Linked DNA regions of Homo sapiens: region 1 is linked to region 2. Evidence: fine-mapped expression QTL. Tissue or cell type: fibroblasts. Region 2 holds a variant in brackets; the other region holds the start of a gene. All regions are shown on one strand. Distances are between the middles of the regions.

Region 1 (7,209 bases), 27 kb before region 2:
TAATACGATTACGGGTCTCTATTCACATTAGATTTTTGGATGAGTGTATTTAAGTAATTTTCTTCTTAGTTTTTATTCTGGGTTTCAAGGCAGAGCTCCACATCAACTAATTTATTATGGAATAGCTTGTGATTTTGACCTAGTTAATCTGACTGTAAATGATAACTTGCCATCGCAAAGTATATAGCGAGAGATAAAAGCAGAGCTGAAATTAGAAAAAAAAAATACAAGTTCGAAAAAAAAGCAGCAGCTATGGTTTCTCATTTTCCCCCTCCAGCATAAATTGTTGAGTAATGAGATTTTTAAAAGCCAGAAATTGCTGTGGAGTGAACCAACACTGGCAGCTGGAGAACTGGCACCAGACACATCTGGCCTGACAGGGTTTGAAGGAAGGTTCGCTGCAGTGGGTGACTACCCATACCGCAGCCTGGCTCCTGCGGCCGCCATGCGGACATGTTCAGATACAAGAGGGAGGGAGAGCAAATGGGAAAAATCAACGTCCAAATTAGAAACTACCTAAGCTATGTTGTTTTTCTTGGGGCCCCACTGTGCCTTTGATTTCCTGATCGTTCAGAGCAAGAATAACAAAATCCGTCTAACCCAGTGATTTTGACGGATTCGTCTGAAAAACTACCTGTTGGGTTTGATCTGTTCATACCAGTGATTCTCAACTGGGGGCCACTTTATCACCTGGAGACATGTGGTCATATCTGGAGACATTTTCAGTTATCATAACTAGGAGGAGGTGCAACTGGCATCTGTAGGAAGAGGGCAGGGATACTGCTAAGCACCCCAAAATGCACAGGACGGGCCCCTCATCCCCAACAAAGAATCCTCTGGTGCCAAATGTCAATAGCGGCGAGGTTAAGAACCCCTAACGTGTGTGTACTCAATCTGAATTCTCTTGGTGGGGTGGCTGGTGTGCCATTATATATATAGTTTCTGGAACCTGGAGACATGAAGTTCAGGCGTGCCCAGCTCAGGCACCTAAATTATGTCAGTAGCTGAAGGATTAACTGGGTCCTGTTTCCTTTTACTAAAGCAAAAGGATCTCATCACCTGGTGATGTAGCCAGCGGTGAAAAGAGCTTTTCAAAGAAGCGTTCAGTGGAAAATAGTGCCCGGTGTAGAGCTGGGAGCTGCAGTGGCAGGCTGAACGGCACCCTCCCCCTTTCTGGTGGCTGTGTCTGAATTGAGGGCAGGCTGCCCCCCTCTCTCGTCAGGCCCCCGGGCACTCTTGGCTTCTCTGCTGTTGAATCTGTCTGATTTGCTGTGGTGAAAGGTCACCGAGGAGCTGGGCAGCAAGACTCCCCAAGAGCCAGCCACGGCTCTACACTCACAGTGATTTCATTGGCATGACGGGAAGCTCCGGCCTGCCAAAGACAACAGCCATGTGCTGTGACTGAGACTGCAGGTTCCTGGGGCATGTGTCCCACCACTCTAGACTGTTCCATTCCCACTGGGTGCAACGGCCTGGAGGAGGCGGATGAGAGCAGATGGACACCCGGTTTCCCCATCCTGTCCTCCCTATCTCAGCACCCAGCAGAGGCGCGCTTCCACAGCTGGCCCCCTTGTCACCCTTTCCAGTTTGCATTTTCCTGCCCTTTCGAAAGAACCAGCAGGGGTGAGGTGGTCTATTTTCATGCTGATGATCAACTAACTCTGTGGCCAAGGACAGCTGTGTCACCTCTCGCTCCCAGACTGGCAGGGGAAGCGGCCCCTGGATGAATGTCCCTTTCGACAGGTGAATCTGCAACTCTTCAAACTGCGGAGGCACCCTCCCCTGACCCTCCTTCAGACCCCTGCCAGTTCTTCTCAAAACAGCTTGTTTAGAAATTTGGGGGCTGGGAAGAAAAGACTGTGATTGAAGAGCTCCTCGAGGTGACTTAGACTTTGCTCCTTGCCTATACATGGAGCAGAGCGTGCTCTGTGGGACCGCGCAGCCCCTCTTCACCCCGGGGTTCTCGGCTGCCATTCCCTGAACATGAGCTCAGTGCCAGGCAGCAAGTGGAGTGATCCTCCTGCACGTGCTCTCGTAATCTTCACAATCATCCCAGACGGAGGAGGGGATTTTGTGAGCCCATTTGACAGGAAAGAAAGTCAAGGCTGAGAGAGCCGATGGCCATGCTTACCCAAAGCCAGACGGGTTGATATGATGTTGATCTGGGCTTCCCAGCCAGGTGGTCTAACTCCAGGGCCAGAATTCTCAGCCATTCATAATGTGAGGGTGCTTGGGGATGAGCCCCCAGCTGGGCACACTTCAACTGTGGTTACTGTCATTTTTGTCAGTGGTGACTGGGCCCCTGTGATGGCACACTCCAGTCAGCTGGCCTTTGTACAGTTTTGTCTACCCTACTCCCCACCCCCACGAAGAGCCACCAGGGAACCCCTTAGTCCTGGAGAAGGCATTGACTACTCTACCAGGGGTTCCTGAAGCCCCTTGGTCCCCTTTGTCAGGCCTGCTGGGCACAACTCGAGCCTGGGGTCACTGCGCGCTCCCTAGCTTCTCCCCGAGTCCTGCTGCAGGAAGAAGCCCCGACCCCGCACAGGTCAGGATTCCGTGGGCAAAAACAACCCCAGTAACCTTGGTCTGAATAGCCGGGCTTGTCCCGCACCATGGGGGTCTCAGTGGGCCTGGGATCCTCCTGCATCTTCTTGGAGGCCCCGGTCCCACTGGGCCCGGCACAAAGGGCAGCTCTGGGTACCTACAGGCCAGGCCCCGACTGGCGCAGAGAGTGCAGCGGCTCTCATATTGCGAGGTGACGCGACTCCCTCCCGCAGGCCCCAGGAAGCTCCTGGAGGCGCGCAGGTGCCGGCCAGGTGAGACTGGAGAAAGGCGCGCAGGGCGCAGCATAGCAGCCGCGTGGGCCGACCCAGGGCCGTAGTCCCCAAGGGCCCTTAGGGGACATTAGACGGCGAGCTCCCTCCCTTCCGAGCTCAGCCAGTTTGCCGGGTGGGGGAGGGTGGCACCTACCTCCCAAAAGCACCAGGACGCAAGCGTAGGGGAGCATGGCTGCGGGCATCCCGTCGGGGCTGGCAGGACCGCCCGCCGGGCGCTGCCACGGTGCGCAAGGGGAGGCGCGGGCGCAGGGCTCTCGGACGGCTGCGGGCGCCGGCGGCCAGGCTGGAGTCCTGCGAAGAAGTTGCGAGGGTCCTGCGCCCCCCTCGGCGCTCACACGCGCTCAGCCTTCCCGGCTGTTGATAGTTGTAAGCGGAGCTGCGCACTCATAGGTCCAACTTGCCAGAAGAGGTGGAGACAGCCCCCGGCGAGGCGCGCACACCCGCGCAGCGCGCACAGCCCCCTGGTGCAGCTCCTGCCATTCAGACCCCCAGCCCTCCCCCAGATGTCCGTCCCCTGGCCGTCGCCTTCCCCAAAGTCTTCGCAGTGGGCAAGGAGGCCTCCCCCAAGCTCTGGTCCCGGCCAAGGCAGAGCGATGCGCTCCTTGCGTCAAAGCGCACCCCTAGCCAGGCCGTTCCCTGGAAGGGCAAGCGGGGCGGGGAGTTCCTCTAAGCCCCGCCAGTCCTGGGACCCCTGAAGTTTCTATTCAGGTCTTCCAGCTACTCCTGGAAAAGTCGCGTCAACTTGGATCCCAGCAAACCCAGAAGCGCAGTGAAAGTGGCCAACCCGGTCGCCTAGAAGCCAGCCCCGGCCTCTGTCTGTAAATGAGGCCGTCACCCGCTCCCCACCACACCCAAACGCATCTAGGCAAAGTGTGGACCCGACCAGGCGGGTTTTCCTCCTTCTCGCAACTCCTCCTCCTGCCCCCCTCCCTCCCAAATCTCATCTGAGTGAGTCAGCTGAGGGTGGCAGCTCAGAAGCGAGGCAGCCGTGAGGCGGAGGACAGGCTGGGGGATCCCAAAGGGTGCGCTCCAGCCCCCAACCCAGGCACTGGGACTCTGGTGGCACCCTGGGTGGCAGGCAAGCCTTGAAATCAAGTGCACGAGCCTTGGAAAGGAGGACCGGGAGAGTTATGGCATTTATGAATGAAGAAGAGAAAGAGAATCACTCGGATGGGAAAAGTTAACTGGATTGTTCCCACCTGCATGGATCACCGGGTAACTGCAGTGGGACCGAGGGGGCGAGGCTGCGGGCTGGGGATGTGCGGGTTTCCTTGTGTTGCCACGAACCCAGAGAGGGAGAGGAAGAAGATGGAAAGAAAAAGGAAAAAGGGAAAGAAAGTAAGAGGGGAGAGAGGGGAAAACTGAGGATGAAGAGAGACAGAGAAGAGAGACCTGAGAGAGGGAGAGAAAGAAAGAGACAGAAAGAGAAATGAAAGTGAGGAAAGGGGAAACAGGCAGAGAAAGAGAGAGAAAGGGGAGGAAAGAGAAAGGGAAAAGAAAGGAGGGAGTGAAATCAACAGAAAAAAGAGAACCAGGAAGGAGGAGGGAGGGGGAGAGAGAAGAGAGAAGAGAGAGAAGAGAGAACAAGAGAGAAGAGAGAAGAAGAGAGAAGACAGAGATGCGGTCTCCCTGGGGAAAGGTTTGGAGAACTGGGCCAGGCCTGTTTCCCGGGACTCACGAGTGAGCAGTCCACCTGCCCCTCTGAAGCATTTTATAGACTCATTTGTCCCACTTTTGTGGGCTGATCATCCCACAGGGGAACAGGGGACACCACCTCACCTTTTGATTTCTTACCAGAAACTTGGGCGAGGCTTCCAGGAGCCACAAGAGCCCTTCAATCCACCCAGGGACCCCCGATGTGGGCCCACCAGCCATCCTTAGCTTTCCTCCTCTCCAGAGGCAACAGGGAATAGGAAAAAGTCCAGAGCAAGGCCACACCATGATCTTAACGCAAATGGAAATGTGAGGAAAACGATCAATTTGCTTCCTGAAAATGACATTTTTTTTTTCTGGTTTCTATGAGACTCGAGGTGGCCTTGCTGAAACTGAAATCGGTATGAGCTTTCCCTGGCAGACAATGGCCATTGTCACATATTAAATTCTCATGAAAGGGATAACTTTGTGGGCAAGAGGAGAGTTGTGCAGGGTGATTATTTATACTTGCATAATTGTGATTATTTGTGGCAATTATGGGTCTTTCAATGTACAAAATTTACAATTATGGGTAGTTTAAAAACTACATGCTAAGGCCGGGTGCCGTGGCACACACCTGTAATCCCAGCTCTTTGGGAGAGCCAGACGGGTGGGTCACCTGAGGTCAGGAGTTTAAGAGCAGCCTGGCCAACATGGTGAAACCCCGGCTCTACTAAAAATACAAAAATTAGCTGGGCGTGGTGGCGGGCGTCAGTAATCCTAGCTACTCCAGAGGCTGAGGCAGGAGAATCACTTGAACCTGGGAGGCGGAGGTTGCAGTGAGCTGAGATCATGCCATTGCACTCCAGCCTGTGTGACAAGAGTGAAACTCCATCTCAAAAAAAAAAAAAAAAAAGTTAAAACTACATGCTATTCTGGCCATAATCATTTGAGACTTCAGTCTCTGGGCTTTCCGGATGTGGGTATTTCAAAGTCCCAGGCGGCTGATGGGGGTTCACGCATTAGTGGCATTTTGTGGGGAGAATGGGTGTTACATTGATGTCCTACATAGGGTCATAATTCAGTATTTTCAGAACTTATTGTACTGCTGTTAGAGATACGAACTTTTCCACAAAGTATGATGCTTGTGTATTAATAGTTGTACTGGCTTATTTATAAATGAGAGGATTTGCTGATAATTATTGAGACTGTGGCATGGGCCAGGCACTAGTTAGGTTGAGTACTTTATATGCATGTACTTTATACCTGAACAAATTGACAAGAAGTGGGAATTACGGTCAGGCCATTTTACAAACTGGGGCAACTGAGTTCAGAGAGTTTGGGCCACTGTCCTGAGGCCAGGCAGCTGGAAGGTGGCAGAACTCCCGGATCCCTGCTTCCAACCACCGCGCTGTGTCTCCAGGACACGTCCTGTCTCACTGGGTTTTCTGCTCCTTTCCAAATCTGAGGACCCCAAAAGAAAAGGCCTGTTTTATAATAACGGCTTCTTTTCGAAGAGGTGTGTGAATAATGGGGGAAACACGACTCCAAAGTACTTTTTCTCTCCAGCCTGGGCAACATGGCAAAACACCATCTCTAGAAAAAATACAAAAATCCTCCAGGTGTAGTGGCACATGCCTGTGGTCCCGGCTACTCGGGAGGCTGACGTGGGAGGATCTCTTGAGCCTGGGTGGTCGAGGCTGCAGTGAGCTATGATTGTGCCACTGCACTCCAGCCTGGGTGACAGAGCAAGACCTTGTCTCAAAAAAAAAAAGTGCTTTTTCTACATCCTAGCTAAACCCCAGCTGTTGAGGCTGAGAGTTACAGGTGGGCCCTGCGCCTGCTGCATCCTCACCCTTGTGATGGGGCGACACTTGGGAGGGTGTGGGCAGCTGTAAAGGGCACTGGAGACTGACGGGTCCAGCGTTCCTCACTTTCCAGGTGAGGAAACAGAAGCGCAATGCAGGTGAGCTGACCCTGTTGAGATAACACAGATTTTACCCCACAAATAGAAAAAAGCAAAGAAAATGGACAAATAGTGTTTGAACAAGGCTGTCCTCAACTCACAAGCAGATCAAACAAGAGCAAAAGAAGGAACCGAAGCTAAAACTCATTTATTGTCTTCAAACATATATTTATTTTTAATCAAAAAAAGAAAAAAGTTATGTTATCCAGATCTTGCATTTTGCTCAGGGAAGGGTGATATACGCTTGGTTCCTGACCTCTTTCTTACCGAGTAATCGCTTGAGAGCTTTTGAAACGGCAGCAATCATAAGGCTGTTTTGGGGAGAAGCCTCAGCTCTGTGTTGGCCGTTAAGTCACGTCTGTGGGCATTATCGCATCTTGGCCTCCGTAGCTGGGCTTTCCTGGGCTGTTAACTGCAGGGGCCCTCGCTGGGTGGTCAGAGCTGCTGCGGGTGAGGTTTTGGGAGGATTCAGGGGGTCTTGCTGGGTGTGAGGGAAGCGGCCTTGAGTCAGATGTCTGTGAGTGGGACCCAGCCTTCTTGCTCCACGTTTATCTCCCACACCACCCCTTCCCCCAGAATCAAAGTCCAGGGGGAATCAGGAGGAAAGTATTGCAGAGCAGGGCCTCTTTTCCTTCCCCCTCCCCTCCAAATGCCTACCTCTTCATCCTTGTCCCTGTTAAAAACACCATGGGATCATAAGATCACCCCACAAAATCTTGCTATAAAATGGTCTGTTTCCTCTGCTTGTTATCAGGGGTAACTGATCAAAGA
Region 2 (7,209 bases):
ATTATCGTCTATGTCTCCCACCAGGCTGAATTTCACAAGGGCAGGGCCCTATTGGAACTGTTGACTGCTCTATCCCTGTTTCTGTCACTTGCCCCTTGCAGACATTTGAGAAGTTTGGTGTCTATAGCAGTCAATCATTGGAAAATAGATGCTGGTCTCTTTATCCTGCCATCTCTAGATACCTTTTCTTCTTTTAATTATTCACCGCAGAAATTTATATACCCATCTCCCAGCTTCCACAGTTATCAACATGCCAATCTTGTTTCATCAAATTCCCATATTTCATTGCAGAAATTTTTGAGTCTATAAAAAATAGAATCATATAGTAAACTCTCATGTAACCATCTCCCAGCTTAAACCGTTATCAACATGCCAATCTTGTTTCACTGAATTCCCATATTCTCTCCCCACCTCTATTTTAAAGTGAACACATCCTATCATTTCATTCACAAGTCATTCACTACAATGTAATACCATTACTGTGCCTCAAAAATGGACAGTCATTTTAAAATATCATATAATACCCAGTCAATGTTGCAATTCCATTGATGGCCTCATAAATGCTTTGTTTAAATTAAGATCCAAAGAAGATCCACACATTGCATTTGGTTGATTTGGTTTTGGAAATCTTTAGTGAATCTCCATTCCCTTTTTTATTTTCTTATTTTTCTATTGGAAACCATATCACCCATCCTGTAGCCTTTGCCATAATCTTGATTTTGCTGATGGGATGGTGTCTTCTGATATGTTCCTCTGTCCCCTGTGTGTCCTGCAAACCTGTAGCTAGCTCTCAGTAAGATCTAGAAGTTTGATGATGTTCATATTTGACTTTTTTGGCAAGAATTCATCAGAGTTGTCATTGTATACTTGTACTGCCTCATTCCACGTGATGTCTGTTTGTCTGTTAAGCTTCCTCAGAGGTTTTGGGGTTTGCCAGCCTGATCCACCATGGTACCCACCTTCATCCACGGTACCCACCCCCATCCCCCAATTCCCAGTGATCCCACTCCTGTTTACTTTGTTCCACTTTCTTACAAGAAAAATCACATCCTAAAATGTTCCCTCCTTGCACGGAAAACCCATCCAGACGAGGCTCAAGTCATAAAAGAGCATGAGACATGGATCTCCATTTGTTATGAAGTTAGTGGGCATCAGCTTTATCAACAGCCCCCATCTTTAATCAAGAAGAAATTACCCACTGGTGGGACATTATGGTTTTCTTTTACAACTAGCTCGTTTTTTAAAAAATTAATTTCAGTTCAATTTTTTTTTTAATTTTACATTTCGGGATCCATGTGCAGGATGTGCAGGTTTGTTACATGGGTAAACGTGTGCCATGGTGGTTTGCTGCCCCCATCAGCCCATCACCTAGGTATTAAACCCCACATGCATTAGCTATTTATCATGATGCTTTCCCCCACTATCCCCCTACACAGGCCCCAGTGTGTGTTGTTCCCCTCCCTGTGTCCATGTGTTCTCATTGTTCAGCTCCCACTTACAAGTGAGAACATCCGGCATTTGGTTTTCTGTTCCTGTGTTCGTTTGCTGAGGTTAATGGCTCAGTTCAACTTTTAAGCAAGGAAAGAGAAGGATAATTGTGCAGCGTTTCCTGAAAAGTTATGAAAGAAAGCAAAGGGTCATTTTTCAGAACTCCTCTCCCACCATTAAGAATCATCCATCGTGGCTCTTCCTTGCATCTTGCAGCCGAGCTGTAAGCCCTGGAATTGGCTGATGGGGCTTTGCTTCCAGAGATGTTTCTCAGATCCTCCTATTTACAAGGAGGGTGTTTGGAACTAGAAAAAAGCTGGAGGTTCGCATCAGGGGAAATTCTCAGTGCAGCTCACACACTCTCATGCCTGCTGGGAATCCGGGCCCTCCCCACTCCCACCTTCTCCTCTGCAGCCCTCTCCTCTCTTCTCCATCCTTATTTCCATTCGAATCAGTGGTTATGGGGTGCTGTCAGGCCTGAGCACCGATGAAGGGATTTTTCAAGCTGTAATTTGTCATGTGGATGAAGGTTTGATCCCTTGTTTGGTGCCCGCAACATTGGGGTCCTAATTTCCACTCCAGGGCCAGTTCTCTGTGGAGCAGGGCAAAGCTTGCCTAACCTTTCTATGTTAGTTTCATCTCCTGGAAAATAGAGTTAATATCTACCCTGCTCCTAGGAACACGGGAATTAGTTATTGTTTTTTCAGAGTGCTAATCTCATACCTTTGCCAACACAAGGCAATTCCACCAACAGCCCCCAAATTATATCTGATCACACAGTGGCTGAATGTGTTGATCATCACTACTTCCATTGTGAAACTCCAAACGAATATTTTTAAGGTTGCCACTTTATTCATAAATCCAAGAAGTTATCACAGCCACTGCAGTGAGTGAGGTTCAGAGCTGAGGGCCACTTGGAAAAAATCACCACCCACTCCAGCCCCGGCCTCCATCCAAGGCTAGGCAGGCTATCACGAAGCAAACGAGAAGGTCACGACAGGCTGCAGCTTCGTCCCTTTCCATTTCGGGCTATGATTAATCTTTTCTGATGTTCTTTTATTTGAAAAAATAATCTAAACTGGCCCCAGACAGAACCAACTCTCCTTAAAAGGGAAATCTACATGAAAGGACGGAATGTTGCTCACAGAGAGAAAAGACAGGGAACCCATCGCTGGAGGTTTGAGGCTCCTGAGGAGAGCACTAAGGTGCCTCGTCTTTAACTTATGGGCATAACGGGAGAGCTCTTTCTTCTTGAAGTTGGTGATTCACAACCTCATTTGAGGTCTGATTCCATCAAAAATACATCCAGCTCCAAGGGCTGCCAAAAAAAAGGAGGTTTTCTCTAACCCA[A/G]GAGACCCCACACAGTTTCTCCTCCAGCCTGGAGACCTGGGTGTACTGTCAGGGCCCCCACCTTCAGTTCTCCTGCCCTCCTGAGTTGTAAGCAGTCCCCAGGAAAGACTCTTCAAGAGGCAGGCCGCTTGGGTCTGGATGGTTCTCTAAGTCAGAGTTTCTCAACTGATGTGCGACTGACATTTGGGGCTGAGTCACTGGGGTGGTGGGGACAGATCTTTGGGGCTGAGTCACTGGGGTGGTGGGGACAGATCTTTGGGGCTGAGTCACTGGGGTGGTGGGGACGGATCTTTGGGGCTGAGTCACTGGGGTGGTGGGGACGGATCTTTGGGGCTGAGTCACTGGGGTGGTGGGGACGGATCTTTGGGGCTGAGTCACTGGGGTGGTGGGGACGGATCTTTGGGGCTGAGTCACTGGGGTGGTGGGGACGGATCTTTGGGGCTGAGTCACTGGGGTGGTGGGGACTGACCTGTGTATCACGGGAGGTTTAGTAGCCTTCCTGCTCCCACCCACTGGATTCTGTGAGCAGCCCCTTCTCCCATTGCAACAACCAAAAATGTCTTCAGACATTGCCAAATGCTTCTGGGTGAGAGGGCGCAAAATCACCCTGGTGGCAATTCATGGAGCTGTTGGTCCCACAGCCCTTTCCAGGGTGCCTTCATGTCCACAGGGAACCTTCAAAGTGCCAGGGTCTTTGGCTGAGTGGGTGAGACCTTGGGAAGGCAGAGCATGGAGCTGTCCTGACACGGGAGCATTTTTTTCCCTTGTGCACACATCCGCCTGGCAACCGTGCTACGAGTCACTGTGGCCTGCCTCCCAGGTGCCCCTTTGAATTGTGCCCACAAACCAGGTGGTTAATCAGCTCTCCAGCGCTGCTTGGAAGCGTCCCTGCCTAAGCGAGCATGTAATTACCAGCTCGCACCCTCAGCCGTGGACACGCAGGAGAGCAGCGGCAGAAACGGGTGGCTCATTGCAGGAGGGGGAGCGGGGGACTCTGGCCTTTGAAGCGTGACATGAATGCCAAAGATGATGGTGTCCGTCCCCTTTGGAGACTGGACATGTTTTGCTGGCCTTTACTGGAACACAGCCACCGGATCCCTGCAGATGGCTAGGGCTTCCTGAGCTACCTGTTTGAGGGAGCGGGCCCCCAGCCCCGGGGGGCACCTGAAGAGCGGCCTAAGCCTGCACACACCTTGGCCTCTTGTTAGGTCCAGGGGGGTGTTTTATTTGGCAGCCTTGTTCCCCATCGTATCAAACGAATTAAAATACGCCCACACTAACTATAGTTTGTTTGCAGTAAAAATATTTGAAAGGAGTTTAATGATTTTGCTTCTTAAATTATCTAGCAGCAGGTAATTCATCAAAGTTGCAATTACCTGTGATTTGCCCCACAACCAATAGGCATCCTTAGGCATTCTTGCAATGGTTTTCTCAAACGTAATGCAGTTTTTATGACGACGACATCATCAATACAGCACCCAGCAAGCAGTGAGGAGGCTGCACTGCTATAGTTGGCAGGCGTTTAATGAAGCATTTATTAATTTTGATTTTGTGGCTTTCTTGTTGAATTTTGGAGCCCATAATTTTCTTCCACATTGCACACACTTGCGTGGACCCCAGAAAGGTTCATGCCTAAGGCTCTTGGGGGTTTGTGGGTGGGTGGGGGTGCTCTTTTTTCTTGGCAGTATGCTGAAGGTGAGAAGATTCCAGAGGTAGCTGAACAGTTGCTTTGCTGGGGAGGGTTTGCTTAGCTGCTGGAGTCACTCCCAGTTTCCTCTTTCTTGGTTTTTGTGGTGGTAAAAATTAAGTCCAAGCATCTGGAGAGCCACATGTGTGATTTGCAAACATCAAACACAGCATTCATTCCTTATTTCTTGATTAATTTATTGGCTGTCGGCTTTCTGATCAGTCTACCAGCTGGGCATTTTACTTTTCTCTTACTGCGAACGAGGCGTAATTGCTGGGACGCAAACCGGTCGGAAAAACAATGAGAAATTAGGCATAATTGGGCGGCATTTCCTGACGAACTATAATGCCAAGCTCAACATGGGAGCCAGTGTTTTATTTTCTTTTTTACAAAAAGGGACTTCACAGTTATTCCTAGCGCGTGAGTTTTCCTCCCCACTGCTTTCCAATGCCTGGGACTGAGCGGAGGGGGTGATTTCCTTCTTCCCAATCAGAGGTAGCGAATCTCTCAGAGCTTATGGTAATATTTAAAGACATAAAAAGGACAGGACAATTAGAAATGTGCACAGGTAGCTTTAGGGCTGACGTTATTGATGCCTTTGTGATCAATAGCACTATTTTTATTTGGATTGCTAGCCATAGGAAGCTACGGCCACAAAATTTAGAGAGCCCTGCAGAGGGCCTGTAAAACCCTGTTGTAACTCTCATGTCAGGCCGGGAATAACGGCTGATTTAAAGGCTTTGGCTGGTGCAGTGAGGCGGGGTTTCCATCAGTGTATGCCCAGGAGAGGGGATTACATCTGCCTGGCGTCCAGACCCCAGGTGGAGTGAAGCCGTTTATAACACAATTTGGCTGCAGTTGAATTTTAATCTTGGGATCCACCGATTGCTTTAAGGGCGAGCTCGAGAAGCCGCCATTTGTTTTTGATAGCTTTACCCAGAGACTAAAGAAATCCCTCCCCCCACAGTTGTTCTGTTAGGGGTTGTGTCTGTGGAAGGGAATTGAAAGAGAAGATTTGGTAAATAGGAGCCATGGACTGTCGTGCTTTCTGGATGAACTGTGTGGACACTGGCTTTCTGATAATCATCGTAGCTAATATTCACTGGGTGCTAATGAGACGTGAGGATGCTGCTAAGCACATTTCACATCATGTTTATCTTCTTAATTGTTTATTTTATTTTATTATTTTTTTTGAGACAGACTCTCACTCTGTTGCCCAGGCTGGAGTGCGGTGGTGCAATCACCACTCACTGCAGCCTCTGCCTTTGAAAGGGCTCAAGCAATCTTCCCACCTCAGCCTCCCGGGTAGCTGGGACCACAGGCACATGCCACCACGCCTGGCTAAATTCTTTTGTATTTTTTGTAGTTTTGTAGAGATGTGGTCTCCCCATGTTGCCCAGGCTGGTCTTGAACTCCTAGGCTCAAGCAAGCCACCCACCTTGGCCTTCCAAAGTGCTGGGATTATAGGCCTGAGCTACCATGCCCAGCCACATCATGTTTATTTAAAAACAAACAAACAAACAAAAACAAAACCCAACTCACAACAACCTGTGAGAGACTATCTCAGGCCCATCTTCTGGACCCGCACTGGCCAATATGGTCACCATTCGTTACTGCGTTTGAAATGTGGCCAGTCCATACAGAGACAAGTTGTAAATGTCAAACATTCACCAGATTTCAGACTTGAGGTGAAAAAAAAAAGTGTTAAGTACTCAATAACTTTTATATTGATTACATGCTGGGATTTGGGTGATATAAAATGTATAACGAAAATTGTATTCTTTTGATTGTGTACCCATTTGTTTTTACTTTTTGAAAATGTGGCTAGGAAATAAAAAATTATGGATGTGATTCACATCATACTTCTAAGGCACTGATCTTAGAAGAAGAAAAGACACACAGACCTGTAATCCCAGCACTCTGGGAGGCCAAAGTGGGCGGATCACCTGAGGTCAGGAGTTTGAGACCAGCCTGGACAACATGATGAAACCCCATCTCTACTAAAAAGGCAAAAATTAGCGGGCGTGGTGGCATGCTACTTAGGAGGCTGAGTCAGGAGAATTGCTTGAACCTGGGAGGCGGAGGTTGCAGTGAGCCAAGATCACGTCACTGCACTCCAGCGTGGGTGACAGAGTGAGACTCAGTTAAAAAAAAAAAAAAAGAAAGAAAGAAAGAAAGAAAAAGAGGCCCAGAGACTAAAGGATCATGCCCAAGGCCGCCCAGCATGCAAGTGTCCGGGCCTTTTAGATGCTAACAACATGACCCCAGAATGGGCACTTGTGCATGAGTCAGTTTCTCAGTCAGCTTTTTGTCGTCAGCCCCACATCCTGCAGACCTTGGCTGAATTTGTAGCCCCTCCGGTCTCAGTTTTCCCAGCTCGGTCATCAGAGGCTGGAGTTGAATGATCTTTGTGGCTTTTTTGCGGACAATGGCGTTCTCAATTTTGTACTCTTTGGCACAGAGTGGTGTAATGTGGAGAGGGGAGCATCAGTCTCTCTCTTAATGCTTATTTAATTATATTTAATTAGGAATCTCGTTGCAATTGGTCTCCTGGGGCCATCTGCTGTGGAGATTTTTGAAGAATCCAAATTTTATTTCTTGCCATCGATCCATGTGGTTAATGGGCCTGAGGAGGAATGATGTCATCTGTCCTTCTAACTTAGCACAAGAGGCAGGAGGAGAAA

Direction of the effects. Alleles are on the strand shown, and positions count from the first base shown. SD is a standard deviation of normalised expression in the study named.
For the expression in fibroblasts of the gene that starts at base 3,694 in region 1, allele G in region 2 goes with a higher level than allele A (moderate effect, 0.63 SD a copy in GTEx).

Evidence for each region. PIP is the estimated chance that this variant, and not a neighbour inherited with it, causes the effect.
Region 1: it holds the start of APCDD1L-DT, and the variant in region 2 is fine-mapped to the expression of APCDD1L-DT in fibroblasts (GTEx, PIP above 0.99). The same link has a PIP of 0.9 or more in damaged cartilage and subcutaneous fat.

What each region holds. Positions count from the first base shown.
Region 1 is chr20:58,511,686-58,518,894 of GRCh38, forward strand. It overlaps APCDD1L-DT (APCDD1L divergent transcript), which reads left to right and starts at 3,694. Exons shown (of 7, transcript NR_034147.1): 1 at 3,694-4,055. APCDD1L (APC down-regulated 1 like) reads right to left here and starts at 3,714. Exons shown (of 4, transcript NM_153360.3): 1 at 2,974-3,714. The coding sequence starts at 3,022. RefSeq lists an enhancer at 2,317-3,315.
Region 2 is chr20:58,539,176-58,546,384 of GRCh38, forward strand. All of the region lies in intron 5 of APCDD1L-DT (APCDD1L divergent transcript), which reads left to right. Among named protein-coding and RNA genes, the nearest start is that of APCDD1L, 27 kb to the left of the region's middle. RefSeq lists enhancers at 2,408-3,607, 6,886-7,209. The variant A/G (reference allele first, on the strand shown) is at 2,839.